3 linked regions of the Homo sapiens genome follow. The protein of the gene in region 1 purifies or fractionates together with the protein of each later gene. This does not show direct contact. Each region holds a gene or a part of one and is shown in the gene's direction. Other genes may lie near its edges.

Region 1 (8,286 bases):
CAGGCAGAGGTTGCAATGAGCCAAGATCGCACCACTGCACTCCAGCCTGGGCAACAAGAGGAAGACTCTGTCTCAAAAAAAAAAAAAAGACTGGGCACAGTGGCTCACACCTGTAATCCCAGCACTTTGGGAGGCCGAGGCGGGCGGATCACAAGGTCAGGAGATCGAGACCATCCTGGCTAACACGGTGAAACCCTGTCTCTACAAAAAATACAAAAATTAGCCAGGCGTGGTGGCGGGCGCTTGTAGTCCCAGCTACTCGGGAGGCTGAGGCAGGAGAATGGCGTGAACCTGGGAGGCAAAGCTTGCAGTGAGCCGAGATTGCGCCACTGCACTCTAGGCTGGGCGACAGAGCGAGACTCCATCTCAAAAAAAAGAAAGAAAAAAAGAAAGATTGTCCCTTCCATTATAAAATGTAGTCTTTCAGAAGATTTCCCTACATAAACAGGCACTTATATATCTTTTCATTTTTAACAGAAATAAGATTATTTTATACATTTTTATATACATTTGGTAATTTGCCTTTTAATACTTGATAATACTTTTGTATTTTGATGCCAGTGTTACTTGATTTTTATATGGTTTATTGTGACACAGTAAGTTCTTAGCATACACTTATTACAAGTCCCTGTCTACCCTCGTACTGACTTCTTTCCCTTTTCCAGTCCTGCAAGTCAGATTACATGCTCCACCTTTCCACTCCTCCAACATAAATATCTCATGTAGTAAAAGTCAGGTATACCGCACTAAGGGCTTAAGATGACACATTAGTTCTTCAATTCAATGCCAACTTTATGAAGGGTGTCCTGAGACATATACAGTTAGCTTTTTTTTATTTTTTAATTTAGAGAGACACTCTCTGTCGCCCAGGCTGGAACTCCTGAGCTCAAGTTCTCCTCCCACCTCAGCCTCTCAAGCAGCTGGAGCCACAGACGTGCACCACCACTCTAGGCTAATTTTTTTTTTTTTTTAATTTTTCGTAGAGACTGGGTCTCACTATGTTGTCCAGGCTGATCTCAAACTCCTGCCTCCAGCAATCCTTCCACCTCAGCCCCTCAAAGTGCTGAGATTACAGGTGTGAGCCACCATGCCCAGCCACAGTCAGCTTTTGAATGCATCGTTTCTTGCATGAAGTGAGGTGCTCCTAACTCATCAGCCAGTGTGTCTGCCTGCCATATCTGTGTAATCTCTTTGCCACATTCAAGAGCAAATAACTACATGCACACACATGTCCCTGCAGGCACACATACACACACATGGCCCATTCGAGTGTGAGCTCCTGGCTAAGACCGTTTGGTTCATCTTGGTAGCTCTAGCTCCTAACACAGTGCCTGGCCGTCAGCACAGATCTGTGTGGTCACAGCCCTCTCGGAGCTCCGGTGAGCACAGGCAAGGAGAAGGTCCTAGCACAGGTGTCTGCTGCCAAGTCATAGTAACAGGAAGAGCTCTAGGAGCTAAGAGCAGGGAGAAGCCACTTTAGGCGGAAGTGGCCCGGGAAAGTGGACCGTGGGATCATGGGGGTGATCCCTTTAGAGCTGTGCTGGGGGTGGAAGGGCGTGATGCAAAGACTGGGCTTTGGGAACCAGTTTGTCGTCAGTGGGCAGGGCCTCAGAAGGAGGCAGAGCCGGAACCCAGGGCTGCCCCTGTCTTGAGAGGCCTGCAAGTTGAGGTCAGGGGCTCCTTTTCAACATAAGTGCCCATTGATACTGCAGAAGCCCCTGTGAGAATGGGTCCTTTGTGATCATCTGTGTCTGTAAAGAAGCTAATAGTCTGTTGCATCTTGGGATAACACATGTTCTTGTGTTCAGGGTCTCGACTCTGAAGACAGAGTTCCTGCCGCTCCTAAGTGTGTCATTTGTCTCAGAGAACAGCGTCGTGGCTGCTGTGAGTATTTTTCTTCATTCTCCCTCGGGGTGCACTGTATGTGATGCTCAGACAGGGAACAATGTGTGCTCTGTCACCCTAGCACAAAGCAGAACAGTTTTTTAGAAGAAACAGAGCTCACTTTTTTTTTTTTTTTTTTTTTTGAGATGGAGTTTTGCTCTTGTTGCCCAGGCTGGAGTGCAATGGGTGATCTTGACTCACCGCAACCTCTGCCTCCCGGGTTCAAGCGATTCTCCCGCCTCAGCCTCTCGAGGAACTGGGAATATAGGCATGCGCCACCATACCTGGCTAATTTTGTATTTTTAGAAGAGACGGGGTTTCTCCATGTTGGTCAGGCCGGTCTCGAACTCCCATCCTCAGGTGATCCACCCACCTTGGCCTCCCAAAGTGCGGGCATGAGCCACCGTGCCCGGCCTCAGAGGTCACTTTTTTTTTGGAGACTGTCTTGCTCTGTCGCCCAGGCTGGAGGGCAGTGGCGCAATTTTGGCTCACTGCAAGCTCCGCCTCCCGGGTTCACGCCATTCTCCTGCCTCAGCGTCCTGAGTAGCTGGGACTACAGGCGCCCGCCACCTCGCCGGGCTAATTTTTTTTATTTTTAGTAGAGATGGGGTTTCACCATGTTAGCCAGGATGGTCTCAATCTCCTGACCTCGTGATCCGCCCACCTTGGCCTCCTAAAGTGCTGGGATTACAGGTGTGAGCCACCGTGCCCGGCCGCTCACTTTTAAGAGTAAGAGGGGGTGGGGCACGATGGCTCACGCCTGTAGTCCCAGCACTTTGGGAGGCCAAGGCGGGTGGTTCACTTGAGGTCAGGAGTTCAAGACCAGCCTGGCCAACATGGTGAAACCCCGTCTCTACTAAAAACACAAAAATTAGCCAGGCATGGTGGCAGACGCCTGTAATCCCAGCTACTTGGGAGGCTGAGGCAGGAGAATTACTTGAACCCGGGAAGCAGAGGTTGTGGTGACCTGAGATTGTGCCACTGCACTCTAGCCAGGGCAACAGAGCAAGACTCGGTCTCAAAAAAAAAAAAAAAAAAGAGTAAGAGAGGCCTGTCGTGGTGAACACTCTGCCAAGGAGGTGGGCGGTGGGCAGTGCATCCTCCAGGGACTGACTGAGTCTTGTTTCAGGGCCATGACTGCTGCCCAATGCTCTTTAACTACGATGACCGCGGCTGCCTGACCTTCGTCTCCAAGTTAGATATTCCAAAACAGAGCATCCAACGCAACATGTCTGCCATGGAACGCTTCCGCAACATGGACAAGAGAGCCACAACTGAGGACCGCAACACGGCCTTGGAGACGCTGCACCAGAATAGCATCACGTAGGTGCCGTCTGTAGAGAGGTGGTCAGGTGACAAGGTGCCTTCCTGCCCCTCGCTGTTTCCTTACTGGGTTCCTACAAAAGCTCTATGCCCCTCAGGCCCAGACATTCTTTCAGGGACAAGTGCAGCAAGAAGTCTGTATCTTCCCGACCGCCAGGCTCTCATTTCCAGCTCGTGGTAGGGAGGGAGTCGCCACCACCTGGTCATTCTGTCCTTCAAGGTGCAGATTACAAGGCAGCAGCCAGCAGGAGCAGTGCAGACCTTGTTGCAATCTGAGGTGGTGGGGCCTCAGGGCAGCTGCTTCCTAGGGTACCCTTTCTCAGCTACTCGAGAACAAAAGGAGACATTCCTGAATGCTGCGTTCCCACAGTAGTGCACACATAACAGAAAGCGAAGTTACAGCCTGTTGGAAAAGGTAACTGTAGCTGTCGTTTCAAGTAATGGATACAAATAAGAAGATTATTTAATTAAAGGAACAGAATTTCTTATCATCATGATGACAAAGCTGAGGAGTGTCTCGACTGGGTTTTCATCAGGTATATGTAATTATGTAAGACAACAGAATTGTGTTTTGTCCAGAAAGTTTAATTTTTTTTTTTTTTTTTGAGACAGAGTCTCACTCTGTTGCCCAGGCTGGAGTGCAATGCCACAATCTCGGCTCACTGCAACCTCTGCCTCCCGGGTTCAAGCAATTCTCCTGCCTCAGCTTCCCAAGAAGCTGGGATTACAGGCGTGTGCCACCACACCTGGCTAATTTTTTGTATTTTTAGTAGAGACGGAGTTTCACCCTGTTGGCCATCCTGGTTTCAAACTCCTGACCTCAGGTGATCCAACCACCTCAGCCTCCCAAATTGCTGGAATTACAGGCGTAAGCTACCGTGCCTGGCCTGAAAGTTTGATTTTTAAGGTCTAGAGGAGAGGCTGGGCATGATGGCTTACACCTTTAATCCCAGCACTTTGGGAGGCTGAGGCAGGCAGATCACTTGAGGTCAGGAGTTCGAGACCAGCCTTGCCAACATGGCAAAACCCCATCTCTACTAAAAAATACAAAAATTAGCTTGGCATGGTGGTACACACCTGTAATCCCAGCTACTCGGCAGGCTGAGGCAGGAGAATTGCTTGAACCGGGCAGGTGGAGGTTGCAGTGAGCCAAGATTGAGCTACTGCACTCCCGCCTGGGTGACAGAGTGAGACTCCGTCTCAAAAAAAAAAAAAAAAAAAGGCACCTGGAGGAGAAATATATGCTTGATATTCTAAATTACTGTGTTCAGAGTTGGGTCCCATGGGATTTTCCCTTACTGAGAAGCCTTTTATGTTTAGAATCTTATTGTGGTATTGATGGTGGGAGAAGTAATGGAAACCTCTAGACTTCCTGTTTGAGAGAATTACAATGAAATGCAGGTTGTGCTTCATCTTCAGCGGAGAAGGGGCAGCTGTATATAAAATAGGCTGCAAATGCTGTATTGAAAAATGAGAACCAGAGACCTGGCACCATGTCTCACACCTGTAATGCTAGCGTTTTGGGAAGCCAAGGCAGGAGGATCACTTGAGGCCAGCAGTTCAATACCATCCTGGGCAACACAGCAAGACCCCATCTCTACAAAAAAATTTTTAAGTTAGCTGGCTGTGTTGGCACGCACCTGTAGTCCCAGCTACTTGGGAGGAGTGAGCTGTGATTGTGCCACTGTACTTCAGCCTGGGCTACATTGTGAGATCCTATCTCAAAAAAAAAAAAAAAAAAGAACCTGAAGGCATAGCAAAACTTACCTTTTCTCCACATTCTTCAGGTTTCTCCTTCTATAGCAAAACTCACCTTTTCTCCATTCTTTAGGTTTCTCTGTCTTGAATGGCTCCGAGTTACTTCTTGTGAGTTTCTCTTACGTTTCTATACAGACCAAGTGTTAAGGAAAGAAAAAGCTCTCATTGCCTCTCTGACACTTCTAGATGAAAAATGAAAAGAACAAACCCTTGCTGATTAGTCTACTTTTATTTGCAGAAATTAGGTGCTCTTTGCACTAGAACTGTGTCAGCTAACTTTTTCTGTAAAGGACCAGATAGTAAATATTTTAGACTCCTAGAGGCCATAGGTCTCTGTTGCAACTACTGAACTCTGGTTGTGGCAGGAAAGCAGGCACAGATGATGTAAACAGATGAGGTGGCTGTGTTCCCGTCAAACTTTATGGACACTCAAATTTGAATTTCATGTAATTTTCACTTCATGAAATAATAGTCTCCTTTTAATTTTTTTCCAGCTATTTAAAAACGTAAAAGCCGGGTCAGGTGCAGAGGCTCACGCCTGTAATCCCAGCACTTTGGGAGGCTGGGGTGGGCGGATCACTTGAGGTCAGGTGGTCAAGACCAGCCTGACCAACATGGCAAAACCCCGTCTCTATTAAAAATACAAAAATTCGCCAGCCTGGTGGCAGGTGCTTGTAATCCCAGCTACTCGGGAGTCTGAGGCAGGAGAATCGCTTGAACCTGGGAGGTAGAGGTTGCAGTGAGCCGAGATCGCACCACTGCACTCCAGCCTGAGTGACAGAGTGAGACTCCATCTCAATAAATAAATAAATAAAATAAAAATGTAAAACCCCGCCCCCCTTTTTTTTTTTTTTTTTGAGATGGAGTCTCTGTCACCCAGGCTGGAGTGCAGTGGCACGATCTTGGCTTACTGCAAGCTCTGCCTCCTGGGTTCACGCCCTTCTCCTGCCTCAGCCTCCCAAGTAGCTGGGACTACAGGCGCCCGCCACCATGCCTGGCTAATTTTTTTTTTTTTTTTGTATCTTTTAGTAGAGACAGAGTTTCACTGTGTTAGTCAGGATGGTCTCGATCTCCTGACCTCGTGATCTGCCCACCTCGGCCTCCCAGAGTGCTGGGATTACAGGCGTGAGCCACTGCACCTGGCCTTTGTTGTTTTTTTTTTTTATTTAAGCTCACAGGCTGTACGGGCATAGGCAGTGTGTGCCATAGTTTGCCATCCCCTTCCCAGCGTCGGGGAAGAGGCGGGTAAGTTCTAGACATCTCAAAGGAGAAAGAAAAATATTGTCTGAGCAATGGATGATTGTCTTGAAAGCTTCCAGATAATTAGGCTAAGACAAGTTGTTTCATTTATCTGTTCCCCTGCTTAGCTTGGTCGGAATCTAGTGGTGTGTCTGCTGCTAACATTTATGATGATTCACTTCAGACTCAAGGAGGGCTGTTGGCTTATCTGCACTGGCTGTCTTGGAGGCTGATTTGAGAGGTTTTGTTTGGAGCTATGGAATTCAGTCATGCTTCATCATGCCTCTGGTTTATTTAAAAACAAACAAAAATACTGTTTTCGCCATGGCTGTGGTCCTACCCACAACCTGCTCCCAGCATTTGAGTGCTGTGTGGGCTGGGTCATTCCTGCTTCCCCAGGTCACGCTAACCAAGGCAAGTTCTTAACTTCTCCCCTTGCCAGTTTTGTCTTTCCTGGACATCTGGTAATAATATGCTTTGGGGTATTTTCTGAGCCAGATTGTTGCAGCCTAATGTTCATGGATAAGTTCATAATCAGGAGTTAAAAGATAATTCATTTCCTGGTGGAGCGTGGTGGCTTATGCCTGTAATCCCAGCATTTTGGGAGACTGAGGCAGGAGGATCACTTGAGCCCAGGAGTTCAAGACCAGCTTGGGCAACATAATGAGACCCGCATCCCAGCTCTATTTAAAAAATAAAGAAGAAGATAATTCATTTCCTTAAGCTGCCCTTACACTATTAGTCAGGAATGTTTGTGTTCACTTCCACTACATACCTTACGATCTCTTTTGCTTTGCTTTTTTTCAGTCAAGTCTCTATTTATGAGGTGGACAAGCAAGATTGTCGCAAATTTTGCACTACTGGCATCGATGGAGCCATGACAATTTGGGATTTCAAGGTATTTTCTACCTAACAGAACAAATTTTGTTTGTGTTAAAACTTTTTTTTTTTTTTTTAAGAGATAGGCTCCTTCTCTGTCACCCAGGTTGGAGTAAGTGGCACAATCATGGCTCACTGCAGCCACCAACTCCTTGCCTCCAGCAGCCCTCCCACCTCAGCCTCCCAAGCTGCTGGGACAGCAGGCATGCACCACCATGCTCCGTGAATATTTTTACAAAACTCTTATGAGAAGAATGTTTCTCATTTCTTGAAACAAAATGTTAAATCTAGTATACAGTTTAATGTCCTAATGTAAGACATTAAACTGGAAATCTCTCATTTTTTTTTCTTTCTTTTTGAGATGGAGTCTTGTTCTGTCACCCAGGCTGCAGTGCAGCGGTGCAATATTGGCTCACTGCAACCTCCGCCTCCCGGGTTGGAGCGATTCTCCTGCCTCAGTCTCCCAAGTAGTTGGGATTACAGGAGCACACTACAACACCCGGCTATGTTTTGTATTTTTAGTACAGACGGGGTTTCACCATGTTGGCCAAGCTGGTCTTGAACTCCTGGCCTCATGTGATCTGCCCACCTTGGCCTCCCAAAGTGGTGGGATTACAGGCGTGAGCCACCATGCCAGCCTTGGAGATCTCTCTCTTTTTTTTTTTTTTTTTTTTTGAGACAGAGTTTCGCTCTTGTTGCCCAGGCTGGAGTGCAATGGCAGAATCTCGGCTCACCACAACCTCCGCCTCTGGGGTTCAAGCGATTCTCCTGCCTCAGCCTCCCAAGTAGCTGGGATTACAGACATGTGCCACCACGCCCAGCTAATTTTGTGTTTTTAGTAGAGATGGGGTTTCTCCACGTTGGACATGCTGGTCTCGAACTCCCAACCTCAGGTGATCCACCCGCCTCAGCCTCCCCAAGTGCCAGGATTACAGGCGTGAGCCACTGCGCCCAGCCAGAGATCTCTTTAAAACCTAAAAGTCATCCGCAGAAGAACGGCACATTCTCAGTGAACTGGAATTTTTACTTCTAGATGTCCATTTATTCATTGAGGAAAAATGGAGTGCTGTTTTGGAAACAGGCCCTATTGGACACCAGCCCAGGTTTAACTATATAGATATATATTTATAGCTGACACTAATTAATTTAATAAACATTTAGTACATATCTCCTGGGTGCCATGCATGATGCTGAGCACTGAGA
Region 2 (8,286 bases), on another chromosome or scaffold:
GGAGAGTATACAACCTTCTGGACACCAGTATTAATAGCTAGCTAAGATTTCATTATTGACTGTCCTTTGCCTTAAGAGCTGGCTATGCACTGAGTAATTTTAAAGCATACAAGATCAGCAGACAAACAGATCAGTTCCCGAGAGTCCTGGTTTTTTCTCTTTATTCACCTGGGTTAGTGGCTCAGTCTGTACTTAGGTTGATAACTAACAATCTGTTCTCTCACTTGGAATTTGGCATCCTTTTGCTCTCTTGAAAACAAAACATGATTAAGTACAATGTAGGATCTGGAGGAGAACAGAGAACATATTAAGGGTGTAGTCAAGTCCTAAAAAAGGATGAGCTTTGATTAAAGATTCTCGGCCAGGCATAGTGGCTCATGCCTATAATCCCAGCACTTTGGGAGGACGAGGCGGGTGGATCATCCAAGGTCAGTAGTTCAAGATCAGCCTGACCAACATGGAGAAACCCCATCTCAACTAAAAATACAAAAAAAAATTAGCCGGGCATGGTGGCGCATGCCTATAATCCCAGCTACTTGGGAGGCTCAGGCAGGAGAATCACTTGAACCCAGGAGGCGGAGGTTGTGGTGAGCCGAGATCGCGCCATTGCACTCTGTCCCAGGCATAAAAAGATACTCATCTCAGTTTTGTGACTTGTTTGGTGACTAAATCCACTTCCCCTCTGTCTCTACTTTCCCATCCACCAAATGAAAGTTAGGAAGAATGCCAACTTAGGAAGAGCTTGGCAAGTGCAGTACTTTAAAAATAATGAAATTATCATGGCCTTTGGATTAACGTATTTGGTTTTGTTTTGTTTTTATTTTCTAGTTATTAAAGAGGGTGTACGGGAGTTTCTTGGTAAATCCAGAATCAGGTATGTAGTCATGTGAGCAACTATGGAATGACATGGGAAGAGAGGTGTCCTTTTTATATTATGCTTTTTTTACCCAAAGGATTTCGTTTAAATATTATTACAAATATTTCTGCATGAGCCCATTCCTAATTTCAACTCCGTCCATAAAAATAGCTTTTAAGGGGCTTTGCTTTGTCCAATATGGAACACAGTAGAGGTACAAAATTGATGTGTGACATTTTTAACATTTACTTGATGGGGCCACATGACTCTTACTTAATCTTTCAGCCAGAGGGCCACATTTGTTTGTTCATGGTGATTAAAATGGCTTTGAAAAGAATGAGCAAACATTGATTCCCACCCTCGGCCCTTAGTAATTCTGCATACTACATATTTGGAGAAAGAAGAGGAATATTCACCACACTATTCTTGTGATTTCAAGTAATAAAAATCAGACCCTTTCTTAATCCAGTCTTCTAATAGGTTGTCTCAACATTCATGGCCAGAGGAATTGAAAGGCACCGTGTCATCCTTGAATAGAACAGCTATGTTATACTGCTTTAAAAAGGAGGTTTAAAGTGGAAAAACTGAACAGCCTTTTTACCCTGTGATTCAGTGGCATGTCTCAAATTCTGAGGCATTTAGCAGGACCCCAAAGTGAGAACCAGGTAGTAAGACCATTGGAACATAATATTTTTTACTCAACTATTACAACTTTGGTACCTTGATTAGAAAAGTCTTCTAAGAAGGAAGTTCTCTGTCACTCTTAACAGCAGTTACTTGTGCTAGCTTATTTCATCACCTCACCTATTTTTTCAGACAGTCTCATTCTGTTGCCCAGGCTGGAATGCAGTGGTACAGTCATAGCTCACTGCAGCCTCCTCCAAATCTTGGGCTCAAGCAATCCTCCCGCTTTAGCCTCTCCGGTAGCTGGGAACTACAGGCACATGCCACCATACCCAATTAATTTTTTTAATATTTTGTAGAAACAGAGTCTCACTGTCTGCTGCCCATACTGCCAAAACAGAGTAAGGAGGTCTCAAACTCCTAGCCTTGAGCAATCTACCCACCTCAGCCTCCGCCTCCCAGAGAGTTGGGATCACAGGCATGAGCCACCATACCCAGCACCTTTTTTTTTTTTAATCTCCAAATTGGCGGGATGAATGTGTCACAGAAATAAAAGCCAAGATAACACTGTAGGCTTTTGGCAAAATCAAGGTATTAAAAGAAAGAAACAAACAGATCTAGAACAGAAAAATCATGTCCAAAGTCTTGGGCATGCTTGTCACAGCCAACATCCTGACATGGAAAGTTTATGTTTCTGTCCCTGGGCCTCCTTCTACCTCCCACTAAATCATAGACATTGCCAGATTGCAGACCCTGTCTTCATAGAAGTGTGAAATGTAAAAGTGTGTGAAAGTAGTGTCTCAACCAGGTGCAGTGGCTCACACCTGTAATCCCAGCACTTTGGGGAGGCCAAGGTGAGTGAATTGCTTGAGCTCAGAAGTTCAGGACCAGCCTGGGCAGCATAATGAGATACCTGTCTCTATAAAAAATACAGAAATTAGCCAGGCATGGTGGCAGCCACCTGTAATACCAGGTACTCAGGTGGCTGAAGCACGAGAATCGCTTGAACCCAGGAGGCAGAGGTTGCAGTGAGCTGAGATTGCGCCACTGCCCTCTAGCCTAGGCGACAGAGCAAGATTCAGTCTCGAGAAAAAAAAAAAAAAGACCGTAGAGTCTCTCCTCCTCTTTTTTAATGGGTTTATCTAGGCACGTTTGGAAAACTCAGCAAGTTATACTAGATTTTTACTTCTCTTCATCCTCAGTATATTCTGTTCATCATGTTAGAAGCCTTACTTAAAGACAGACTTTACCTTAGCTATAGTTTTATTTGCTCTTATTTGGCTTCCTAAAACTAGCAAACCTCAGCTCTAAATCTTTTCTTTTTTAATCTAACCTTGTAATCTGTGTGCTTATTTGGTTTTCAAGTACCCAAAATAGAATGATGATTGATATTATTTAATACTGGAGTGCCTCTCCAGTATTAAATAAAATGTGCTAAGCATTATCTAGAGCAAAGATTTAGCCCATCCTCCCGAAGAGCCCATGCTCAACAAAAAACACAGACCTCAGCCGGGCGCGGTGGCTTATGCCTGTAATCCCAGCACTATCGGAGGCCAGGGCGGGCGGATCACCTGCATTCAGGAGTTCAAGACCAGCATGACCAACATGGAGAAACCCCGTCTCTACTAAAAGTACAAAATTAGCCAGGCCTGGTGGCGCATGCCTGTAATCCCAGCTGCCTAGGAGGCTGAGGCAGGAGAATCGCTTGAACCTGGGAGGCGGATGTTGTGGTGAGCCGAGATCATGCCATTGCACTCCAGCCTGGGCAATAAGAGTAAAACTCCATCTCAAAAAAAAAAAAATACAGATCTCAGGAATGCTTTTGGGAAAAAATGAAATAGTAATGAGGTTTCAGATACTTAGAAGTGTGAAAGCCATACAGTTCTGGTGAAGTTATTCCCGTCAGTTGCCTAGAATATAAAATGATCCTCAGTGATGTAGAAATATTCTTGCAAAAACATCTCTAGGCAGTTTGACACTTATTAATCATTTGATTCTATAATCAAGTGTTCCAGCCGGCTTCTGGGAATTCATAGTGGACATGCTGTAAAAAGGCAGGTCATCCAATGGTTTCAGTCCATGTTCTGCACCCGTATTGATGACCTGTCATGTTCCACACACTTTAAGTATTGAACATTCTTTTAATGCTCACAACATTCTCCCCTATCTCCGCACCCCCTGCCCTGCTCCTTTTTCTTTTTTTCTTTTTTTTTGAGACAGAATTTCACTCTTGTTGCTCAGGCTGGAGTGCCGTGGCGCGATCTCAGCTCATTACAACCTCCACCTCCCGGGTTCAAGCAATTCTCCTGCCTCAGCCTCCGGAGTACCTGGGACCACAGGCGTGTACCACCACACCCAGCTAATTTTGTATTTTTATTAGAGACGGGGTTTTGCCATATTGGCCAGGCAGGTCTCGAACTCCTGACCTCAGGTGATCCACCCACCTTGGCCTCCCAAAGTGCTGGGAATACAGGCTTGAGCCACTGTGCCCAGACCACCCTACCTGCCCCCCACCACCAATTTTTTTTTTTTTTTAACAGATGAGGAAATTAACAAGTCAGGCAATTTTTTTTGTTTTTGTTTTTTTTTTTTGGAGCTGGAGTCTCGCTCTGTTGTGCAGTGGTGCAATATCAGCTCGCTGTAACCTCCACCTCCTGGGTTCAAGCAATTCTCCTGCCTCAGCCTCCCAAGTAGCTAGGATTACAGGCGCCCGCCACCATGCCTGGCTAATATTTGTGATTTTAGTAGAGACAGGGTTTTGCCATGTTGGCCAGACTGCTCTCAAAACTCCTGACCTCAGGTGATCTGCCCACCTTGGCCTCCCAAAATGCTGGGATTACAGGTGTGAGCCACCACACCCAGCAGTTTTTTTAAGGTCACAAAATGACAAGACTAGGATTTGGACCCAGTTCTGTTCGACTCAAAATAGAGTGCCCTACACTTATGTGTCATGCTGCATTTGGCAAGTCACGTCACTTCTTTGAATCTCCTTTTCCCTCTGCAAAACAGTAACCTTATCTAGCCTGCAGACTTCAAAGGTGGTTATGGAGATCAAATGAAGTAAAATGTTTTAAAAATTGTACAATATATACCAATAAAAGCTATTGGGGAGGTATATGTATGAACAGGTAGTTGGTTTTTCTACCCTGCCACCTCATAAAGAGTTTGCAGTGGCACGTAGAAGGGTTTATCTTATTATCACAAAGCTACCCATTTGCTGGCCATACTGATACTTGGCACATTAAACTATCAGAGAAATATATGTGGCTCCTTTACAACTGTGTCTAGAAGGGTACATTTCCAATCAGAGTTCCCAGGTTCTGACTTTCTCCCATTACATATTTGTAATTAGTCATCTTTGATACTGATTCAAATTTTTGATTAACATTAATTATATATATTTACAAGAATCTTATAAAAATTAAGATTTTATTTCACCTCATTTTGCCCTGTGAGATAGATGGAAATAGACTATATTCTACCCAGGTTAAAAGTACAGATAATGAGACAAAATGTCAATAGAACCTGAAAAAAGATTTTTTTAGTTGCCTCTAGTCTCTGTTTACTTGGTATAGATAGTATGCTGCTTTTTTTTTTTTTTTTTTTTTTAAATGTAACTGCTGGGTTGTTTTTTGTTTCTTGTTTTTTCTTTCCCTCCAGGATACAATGTCTCTTTGCTATATGACCTTGAAAATCTTCCGGCATCCAAGGATTCCATTGTGCATCAAGCTGGCATGTTGAAGCGAAATTGTTTTGCCTCTGTCTTTGAAAAATACTTCCAATTCCAAGAAGAGGGCAAGGAAGGAGAGAACAGGGCAGTTATCCATTATAGGGATGATGAGACCATGTGAGTATAGAATTTGGTCCTGAAGCCTGGATATGGCTGCTACACCACCATGGCACTTACTGAAAGAAATATGGCTTGGTCAAACTTTCAGCTGTATTGCGTGAAAATGTTTTTCTCATAAAATGTCTTAAGCCAGGAAGTAGATGATAGGGCAGAAATCAGCCACTCCTCCTACTCTCCAGATACTGAGAGCTGACAGATGGTGGAAAGAGAATCCAGTGCTTTCCTTTAAGGCACCACTGTTCTGAGTCATGTTTAAGAGTATAGCCTGGATAATCAGCAGGCAGGGTGACCATAGGTCCATGTTATATTTACAAGTCAATAAAATCTACTTCTGATAATTTCCATCTGCTGCCTCTCTTAGGGCATTCATTTTGTGCACTGACTTTGTTGACCATAAATATCATCTCATTTGGCACACCTTTATATTATGATTTAAGAGATTTATGACTTTAGCCTTCTGATGTACTTGTAGATCAAGTTATTGACAAAACCCCATTCTGATTCTGTACTTATCCTCATGGATTTTGTTCCTCTCAGGTATGTTGAGTCTAAAAAGGACAGAGTCACAGTAGTCTTCAGCACAGTGTTTAAGGATGACGACGATGTGGTCATTGGAAAGGTGTTCATGCAGGTATGGAGCAGACATCTTGGGGGAAACCCATGCATGGCGACTTATACCTTTGCACCCAAACATACCATGAGCGTAGGAAAGAGATCTAGCAACTCTACTGATGTTAGAATTTTTTTTTTTTTTTTCGAGACGGAGTTTCTCTCTTGTTGCCCAGGCTGGAGTGCAATGGAGTGATCTCGGCTCACTGCAACCTCCGCCTCCCAGGTTCAAGCAATTCTCCTGCCTCAACCTCCTGAGTAGCTGGGATTGTAGGCATGCACCACCACACCCAGCTAATTTTGTATTTTTAGTAGAGACGGGGTTTCTCCATGTTGGTCAGGCTGGTCTCAAACTGCCGACCTCAGGTGATGCCCATCTCGGCCTCCCAAAGTGCTGGTATTACAGGCATGAGCCACCATGCCCAGCCTTGACGTTAGAATTTGTTGAAGATTTAATAGACAACTCCCACAAAACTCAGTGAATATTTTTTGTTGCTGCTGCTGTTGTTTTGAGGTGGAGTCTTGCTCTGTCGCCAGGCTGGAGTGTAGTGGCACGAACTCAGCTCACTGCAACCTCCGCTTCCTGGGTTCAAGCAATTTTCCTGCCTCAGCCTCCCAAGTAGCTGGGATTACAGGCACGCGCCACCACGCCCAGCTAATTTTTGTACTTTTAGTAGAGATGGGGTTTCACCGTGTTGGCCAGGATGGTCTCAATCTCCTGACCTCATGATCCGCCCGCCTCAGCCTCCCAAAGTGCTGGGATTGCAGGCATGAGCCACCGCGCCCAGCCTGATATTTTTTTTCTCAGTGGTTTAGTTTTGCAGGACAGAACTAAAGGGTAAGTTGAGAATTAAACATACTAACTATGAATGAATGTTATGCATCCTTCCTACTGTGGGGTCTTTGACCTAAAACTTTGTCAGGTTTCCTAACCCTAACCTCTTGTGTTTCCTCAGATTTCTAGTAAGGTGGCTGCTCTTGGTTTGGTCCTAAGGTCTTTTCAGAATGGACTGTATAGCCAATTATTTGGTAGTAGATAACGCATGAACAGGTAGAGTTGTTGAACTGACAGACTGAGCCTGAGTTTGGATGGGTCACCATAGAGTACTTCCCTCACAAGAAGCTCATCTTAAGAAGAGTCATGAGAGGCCAGGCGCGGTGGCTGACGCCTGTAATCCCAGCACTGTGGGAGGCCGAGGTGGGCGGATCACGAGGTCAAGAGGTCAAGACCATCCTGGCCAACATGGTGAAACCCCGTCTCTACTAAAAAAATACAAAAAATTAGCCGGGTGTGGTGGCAGGCACCTGTAATCCCAGCCACTTGGGAGGCTGAGGCAGGAGAATCTCTTGAACCTGGGAGGCAGAGGTTGCAGTGAGCCAAGATTGCACCATTGCACTCCAGCCTGGGCAAAAAGAGCGAAACTCCGACTCAAAAAAAAAGAGAGTCCTGAGAGTTAGCAGGGCATTTTGTAATTGGATTTTTGGTGTAGTTGCATTCAGGTCATTGTGTACCAGTCTGCTGGCCAGTTAGTTGCTGCCTCTAGGATGGACATGAGAGTTCATTGGTCAAGTGACATTCAGGCTGGTTTCTTCTGAGATGGCTCAGCATTCAAAATCTAGTACAATGGTAAAATTTTTTGAAAACGTTACTACCTTCATTCTGTTCCTTGGCAGGGTGGTAAAGATTTTTAAATTCTGAAGCAGAATCTCTTTTGCCAAATAGAGTTGAAAGACAGCTGTGCTTAACAGTAAAGATACTTTGCATAGCCTTCTAAGTGGCTAGGAAAATCTTCAAAAGTGATATTCTCAACTGCTCCATCCCTAGTGGCTTTTGTATTTTGGCTAATTAATCAGAAACTAGTTTGGGAGTCACTATACAGAAAAATTGGAATATTGACACTTCAGCATTTGCTAGTGCTGAACTTGATGAAGGAATATATAAATATACATGTATCTCTTGGGTCCTAAAAGTAAGCCTCTAGAGAGGCATTTCATGTGTTTTTATGCAGAATTGACAGGGGAATTAAATGCAGTAGCTCAGAAATTGGGCTAAATCCAGAGTAACAAAACTAATTTTAAAAGCTCTGAAGTATATATTTAGATTTGGCTGGTTTTTTACCAATCTTATTCCATTTTATTCCAGGAAACAACTTATTTTTATACTTTAAACAGATCTTATCTTGGAGAGTGTACCGGAGATTTGTTCCTTAGGAGAATTTTGTGTATTCTTTTTTGGCATATGATTTAAATGCCTCCTTCAGGGTACCTGTGGTAGGGCACTTACCTAAAAGGAAAGACAAAGCCTCTTTTGCATTTTGGCACTAACAGGATCTCTGGATAGTAACTG
Region 3 (6,724 bases), on another chromosome or scaffold:
AAAAAATGACCGGTGCTTATAAAAAGTTATAAATATCGAGTAGCTCTAAAACAAACCACCTGACCAAGAGGGAAGTGAGCTTGTGCTTAGTATTTACATTGGATGCCAGTTTTGTAATCACTGACTTATGTGCAAACTGGTGCAGAAATTCTATAAACTCTTTGCTGTTTTTGATACCTGCTTTTTGTTTCATTTTGTTTTGTTTTGTAAAAATGATAAAACTTCAGAAAATAAAATGTCAGTGTTGAATAATTTATTTTTCTCTGACTTTAACAATTATGAATGTATGGTTAATTAAGAGGAAAGGTTTTCTGCTTCTACCACCAAGTACTGTACTCTTAACAAGAACAGTTTGGTAGGGTTTTTATAAGACTATATAGATATAAGATGATAGAGAAGAGAGTCATGAATGATGTCAGAGCACTACTGAAGCCTTTGGAGTGATTCCATAGCCTTCTGGATGGCAGCTGAATACCTATATGTAGTATCACTGCCCAAAGACCTAGACTAGAAAGTGCAAAGTAGCTTAGCAGCTGCAGTCATTCACTCCCAGCCTCCAAAATTCTCTTTCTTTCACCTCAAATCTATTTCTTGTACTTACCTACTCACAGCGACTTCTGTTTGCTTTCGATCTTCACCTGACTAGATTCCCACTTTAAAACACTTCCAGGCAATTCAGGGTCCTATGGGTGAAGATAAGCTAAGCAATAGGTATTATTCTTAAATATTACTTAGAGATGGGGACTTGCTATGCTGCCCAGGCTGGAGTGCAGTGGCTGTTCACAGGTGTGATCATAGTGCACTGAGGCCTCAAACTCCTGGCTTCAAGCAGTCCTGCCTCAGCCTCCCGAAAAGGTGGAACTACAGGCACATGCCACTGTGCCTTAGCCAATAGGTATTAGAGGTAGTCAAGTAGGTATAGCATAACCAATTACAAACTTTAAAATCAAATGATACTGAATGCTTTTTCATAAAATCCTTCTTAACATCACTTTCATAACTGAAGCGTTTGGAAAAATTCTGGAGTTCATATTTGTTCACAAGAATGGGTGGGTGTATTTAGAATCTGCCAGTCTATCAGCTTTACTGAGGGGAGATACTAAAAATATTTAACAAGTAGTATAATATAGAGACCGAGTCAAAATGGATACTAGCTGGAAACAACTGGTTCAACTGTTGCCTCCTGACTAAATGTCAGCCCAGGGTATAGTAACCATGACACAGTACTATCCTTGGTGAAGAGTTGGGAATAGGATTAATTGCGGAAAAAATATATATAAATGCCATAGGACACTTTTAGCACAAAAGTAGTTGTTTACCTCCCATTCTCCTCCTTTAATCTCAGTGCTTTTACTATTTGGTTTCTTTTTTGGCATTTTACAAAAGGGAAGAAATGGAAAACATACCCCTTCTTGGTCATTGGGTAACAGCACCATTTCGGTAACAGTCATACTTGATGACAAGTATGATGATATTTTAAGGACATGAACATGGGTGAAATCAATGTGTAGATGGTACAAATTAACCGAATTCTTTTTAAAGCATTTCCTGTGGATCCCAGGATCATGAGGACATAACAGAAGAATAAGGTCTGAATCTTGTTCACCAGTTTGCTCTCAGCCTAATTGGGAAGTAAGGTTAAGCACCTGAAAATTATGTCATACAAAAAAAAAGAGAATTAACGTCATACAATTTAGCATTTGACTGTAAATGCAGTTAGTCAATGTTGGGAGAACAACAAAATCAGGGTGGATCAGAGTATTTAAAGTGAGACATTAATTTGAACTAATCCTTTGGAGGGGCAGAAAGGACAAACGGTCCAAGTGAAATGAACAGAGTAGAAAGAGAAAGTTAAAAGTGGGTTTAATAGTCACTGTTCTTGCAGTTTTAATGTTTTTTGTTTTGTTTTGTTTTGTTTTGTTTTGTTTTGTTTTTTTTGAGACAGAGTCTCGCTCTGTGGCCCAGGCGGGAGTGCAGTGGCGCGATCTCGGCTCACTGCAAGCTCTGCCTCCTGGGTTCACGCCATTCTCCTGCCTCAGCCTCCCAAGTAGCTGGGACTACAGGCGCCCGCCACCACGCCCGGCTAATTTTTTGTATTTTTAGTAGAGACGGGGTTTCATTCACCGTGTTAGCCAGGATGGTCTCGATCTCCTGACCTCGTGATCCGCCCACCTCGGCCTCCCAAAGTGCTGGGATTACATGCGTGAGCCACCGCGCCCAGCTGCAGTTTTAATGTTTTTAACATAAGAATTCTAGATGGTGCAAATTATTAACAGGATCAGAAACTATCTCCGTGATAGATTCAAGAAAGTAAAATTATAGGAAATCATAATGTTTTATTAGCTGAAATAGACATTGATGATCACTTAGTTTAACCCCATGTATAAAGGTAAAAAAGAAAATTAATTAATTAATTTTTTTTTTTTGAGATGGAGTCTTGCTCTGTTGCTCAGGCTGGAGTGCAATGGCACAATCTCGGCTCACTGCAGCCTCCACCTCCCAGGCTCAAGCGATTCTCCTGCCTCAGCCTCCTGAGTAGCTCGGATTACAGGCACGCATCACCGTGCCCAGCTAATTTTTGTATTTTTAGGAGAGATGGGGTTTCACCATGTTGCCCAGGCTGGTCTTGAACTCCTGACCTCAGGTGATCCACCCTCCTCCGCCTCCCAAAGCACTGGGATTACAGGCGTGACCACCGCGCCCAGCCAGATTGATTAATTTTTAGATACACAATTTTTCCTTTAGATTTACAACTAACATCCCCTTACAGACAAAATATGTTAAAAGCACCAAAATAATTGAAAAACACACCCAATTAAGGAACAGACCAACGGCCTCTGTAGAACCAAGTGCCCTTAAACAAGGCTGCTTCTGTCCATATTCCTGCCGCGGGACCTCTGCCCCACTCCCTCTCCCCCTCACCCCAATGTCACTAGTACAATATGTGAAAACCCCAATGTGAAAACGTTCTGTGCAGGTGCCTCTTGTATGATTCCAGATATGGAGGAGGCCCGGGAAGCCCACAGAGGTACAGCATGTCATCTGCCTCAAGGTGGTGCTACTTCACCACATTGATGATCCAACCACAAGCAACATGGGACACAGCATTCACTTTAACATTTCTATTTTCCTTTATCATTTCTGTTACTTGAGTGTGTAAGAGTAATCAACATAAATAATCTATGTTTACATCTCTTATTTCTCTCTGAAACAGTTCCCTAGAATCCACACCACATGAAACACAAATTGAGTAGTGTATGACCCACCTGAATTCCAAAGCATTCTAAAACTCCCGTATTTTCCAGCCTAGCAGTTAGCTCCTGCTCTGCAAGACACACCCTCTTGACCTTGCTGCTAGACTGTATGGGCCCCCTGAAGTCATAGTAGCTGGCTCTTACTCATCCCCACATTCACTTGGCATAGTTGATGTTCAACAAATATCTCTTGGTTGCATAACATTGAACGAGCCAAGTCACCTAAGAAATCCTTAATTTATACACAGGTTCTTAGGGTACCTGAATAGGGCAACACATCAGAAGTACAAATTGAGAACTATACAAAGAGTAAAATAATTCTTGGGTTCAAATACCCTAGAGCCAATCAAGTTTAGTCACAAAGAATTTCAATTCACTTCAATGTGGACAGTTAAGAAGGGAATTTATCAGCCTTAGGTGGAAATCAGAGCCACCATGAGTACCACGTGCAGCCCCTATAGTGTTTAGCTTTGCCAGAAGTCACCAGAGAAAGTGGCTGAGGAACAGAATTCCAGCTCATATCTGGCTAACAGTGGCACTATGGGAGTTTATATGATCTGTTCATTATTCTGTGGCATCACCTTCTAAGAGCAGAGATGTGACCCAATACCCCTTGTTTTCCTTAAAGATAACCATTAAATTATATCCATGAATTTATATCACCGTCCTTGACTTTATACGTAGATTTTTCTAATTCTGTCAACCCTTAGGGTAATGAATAACTTAAATGGCCAATGCCTCTGAATAACATCATACTTCCTTTTGTTTCTCCAAAAATTGAATCAAGATGCCAGGGCAACTAAGATTTTCTTCAATTTGCTAAGTTAAAGGTCAGTGTATTCATTAGCCAATGGTTCTGTATTTTATTCATTTTAGTTTTTATTCGTTTTCAAATAATTTGTTCATATTGTTCAATATTCAAAAGGTAAGAAATATGTACTGTGGTAATTTTCCATTCCACCCTAGTTCCTCTTTTGACAACCAACTATTGTCACTTAATTCTTAGGCATCCTTCCAGATACAGTGTATGCATTTACAGGCAAATACCTATATAAGATTTTACCCCTTTGTGTACATAAATACTAACATACTATATATAGTGTTCTGTTCCTTGCTTTTTTCATTAACAGTATATTTTGGTGGTAATTTCCTATCAATACATAAAGAACTTCCTTATTCCCTTCAGAGGCATTTGAACCAGAGCAATTCCTTCTTGAATAGAAGCTGGGTAAAATAAGGCTGAGACCTACTGGGCTGCATTCCCAGATGGTTAAGGCATTCTAAGTCACAGGATGAGATAGGAGGTCAACACAAGATACCGGTCATAAAGACCTTGCTGATAAAACAGTTTGCAGTAAAGAAGCTGGCCAAAACCCACCAAATCCAAGATGGCAATGAAAGTGACCTCTGCCTCTGGCCATCCTCACCGCTACGCTCCCACCGGCACCATGACAGTTTACAAATGCCATGGCAACATCAGGAAGTTATCCTATATGGTCTAAAAAGGGGAGGCATGAATAATACACCCCTTGTTTAGCATATCATCAAGAAATAACCGTTAAAATGGGCAACCAGCAGCCCTCGGGGCTGCTCTGCCTATGGAGTAGCCATTCTTTATTCCTTTACTTTCTTAATAAACTTGCTTTAACTTTACAGACTGGCCTTGAATTCTTTCTTGTGTGAGATCCAAGAACGCTCACTTGGGGTCTGGATTGGGACCACTTTCCGATAACAATTTTATTTTTATGACTGCATAATAATTCTATTATATAAATAAATGTACCATAATTTACTTAACCATTTCCCTATTGATTTAGGTGGTTTCTGATCTTTTGCAGTTACAAACAGTGCTACAGTGAATAGCATTATACACAAGTCATTTTACATATGTTCAAGCCTATTTGTAGATCAATTCCTAAAAGTGAAAGTTAAGGTCAGTTGGAGGGCATTTAAGGGAGATATTGCTAAATTGCCTTTCTTAAAGGTTTTATCAATTATACTTTCTCCAGCCGTGTAGAAGAATGCATGTTTTCCCACCCCTTTACCTATTCTATGTGTTTGTCATAAAACATTTTTTAATCTTTTCAAATCTGATGTTTTAAAAATGGTATCATATATTTGCATTTCTCTTAATGTAAATGAGATTGCACATCTTTTCACATGCCTAATAGCCAGTTGTATTTTCTTTTCTATATTTTTGTATTTCTATATTTTCTTTGCCCTTTTGATGGTCTTTTTCTTACTGATTTGTAGGAGCTCTTTTCAACAGGAATGTCAAATATTTCTTGCATTTTGAGTTTCGCTTTATAATAGCTTTTACTATAAATAAAAAGGTTATTTTTATTTTTATCTAATTGAGTTTATTAATCTTTTCTTATGGCATTTAGAGTTCAAGTCATACTTAGATTTTCCTGGCTCCAAAATTTAAAAATAGAAATTTCATGAAGTGTTCTTGGATGTTTTTATGATTTTAAATTTTAGTTTTTTTATTTTAAAATATTCATATTTTTCTTTTCAACAATTGCTGCTTCAAATGTAAACTAGAAGAGATTAGTTGGTCCCCATATGGAAGTCTTATCCTAATATATTGACTTGGTTGGTTTTCTCAGGACTTGAGGGTGTTTTCTTAAGACAAACTACCCAAAGTATTTCGCACGTGAAAGCACAGTTTCACTGTCATTCAGGCAAGTATTTACATGCTAAGGGCTGCTTAAAATATTTAAAATACAATCCTTATCCTGTGGGATCTAGATTCTAGGTAAGATACACAAGCAATGAATAAAATTCAATAGTAAACAAGCTATAATAGAGAAGAGAGTAAATTCATGTACAATAACAGATGGGGAGCAATTACTTCTCCAAGAGAGAATGTCAAGGAAAAGGTGTGAAAATGGGAGCATTTCAATGGGCCTTGAAGGCTATCTAAGAGTTTGGCAAATAGAAAACAGGAAGGGAATACCAAGCCGAGGAAACAACACGATTTCAGAATTCACACAATTAGTGAACATTCCAGAATCCTGTTCATTATTAGTATTAAATCAAGTTAATTAAGTGATACCATGTTACCACTAAGTTTGAAGACTGGTTCCAAATTTTCTGGGTCCTCAGATCAAAAGCAAAAGATTTCCTTAACTTTGATATAATACCCAGTGTTTATTCTAACGAGAGGGAAACCATCTGCTGCTGAGATACAGCTACTTATGAGTTTCATGTTATAGCTGTTGTCAGGCCAGGAAGTACATAGACAAAGTATATGCTGATTGATAGTGACTCTCTGGGGTGCTGTATTGAGTAGGACATGTTGGAGTTCAACAGGTAGGTGGACCATGAGAATTAGTGATGTCTGCCATGGGTTTTAGACATGTAGAATCACAACACATATTTTATTCCTGCTCTAAATGATATACAATATCTGCATTATTTGGCCCTGGCCTTTATCTACAGCCCCATCCCCAACTAAAAGTAGGACT

The links. Proteins that work in one complex are often made in the same cells at the same time.
Region 2: the proteins of ARPC1A (region 1) and ARPC2 purify together in Homo sapiens (affinity purification with mass spectrometry; 10 studies listed by BioGRID and IntAct, with this or other methods). This does not show direct contact.
Region 3: the proteins of ARPC1A (region 1) and ARPC5 fractionate together in Homo sapiens (co-fractionation; 10 studies listed by BioGRID and IntAct, with this or other methods). This does not show direct contact.

The regions. Positions count from the first base shown.
Region 1 is NC_000007.14:99,356,532-99,364,817, forward strand, and holds part of ARPC1A (actin-related protein 2/3 complex subunit 1A), read left to right. Parts: intron 1-1,808; coding exon 1,809-1,884; intron 1,885-3,013; coding exon 3,014-3,207; intron 3,208-7,011; coding exon 7,012-7,102; intron 7,103-8,286. UniProt on the Homo sapiens protein: Probably functions as a component of the Arp2/3 complex which is involved in regulation of actin polymerization and together with an activating nucleation-promoting factor (NPF) mediates the formation of branched actin networks.
Region 2 is NC_000002.12:218,233,524-218,241,809, forward strand, and holds part of ARPC2 (actin-related protein 2/3 complex subunit 2), read left to right. Parts: intron 1-828; coding exon 829-874; intron 875-5,140; coding exon 5,141-5,327; intron 5,328-5,867; coding exon 5,868-5,961; intron 5,962-8,286. UniProt on the Homo sapiens protein: Actin-binding component of the Arp2/3 complex, a multiprotein complex that mediates actin polymerization upon stimulation by nucleation-promoting factor (NPF).
Region 3 is NC_000001.11:183,619,725-183,626,448, reverse strand, and holds the end of ARPC5 (actin-related protein 2/3 complex subunit 5), read left to right. Parts: 3' UTR 1-5,603; downstream 5,604-6,724. UniProt on the Homo sapiens protein: Component of the Arp2/3 complex, a multiprotein complex that mediates actin polymerization upon stimulation by nucleation-promoting factor (NPF).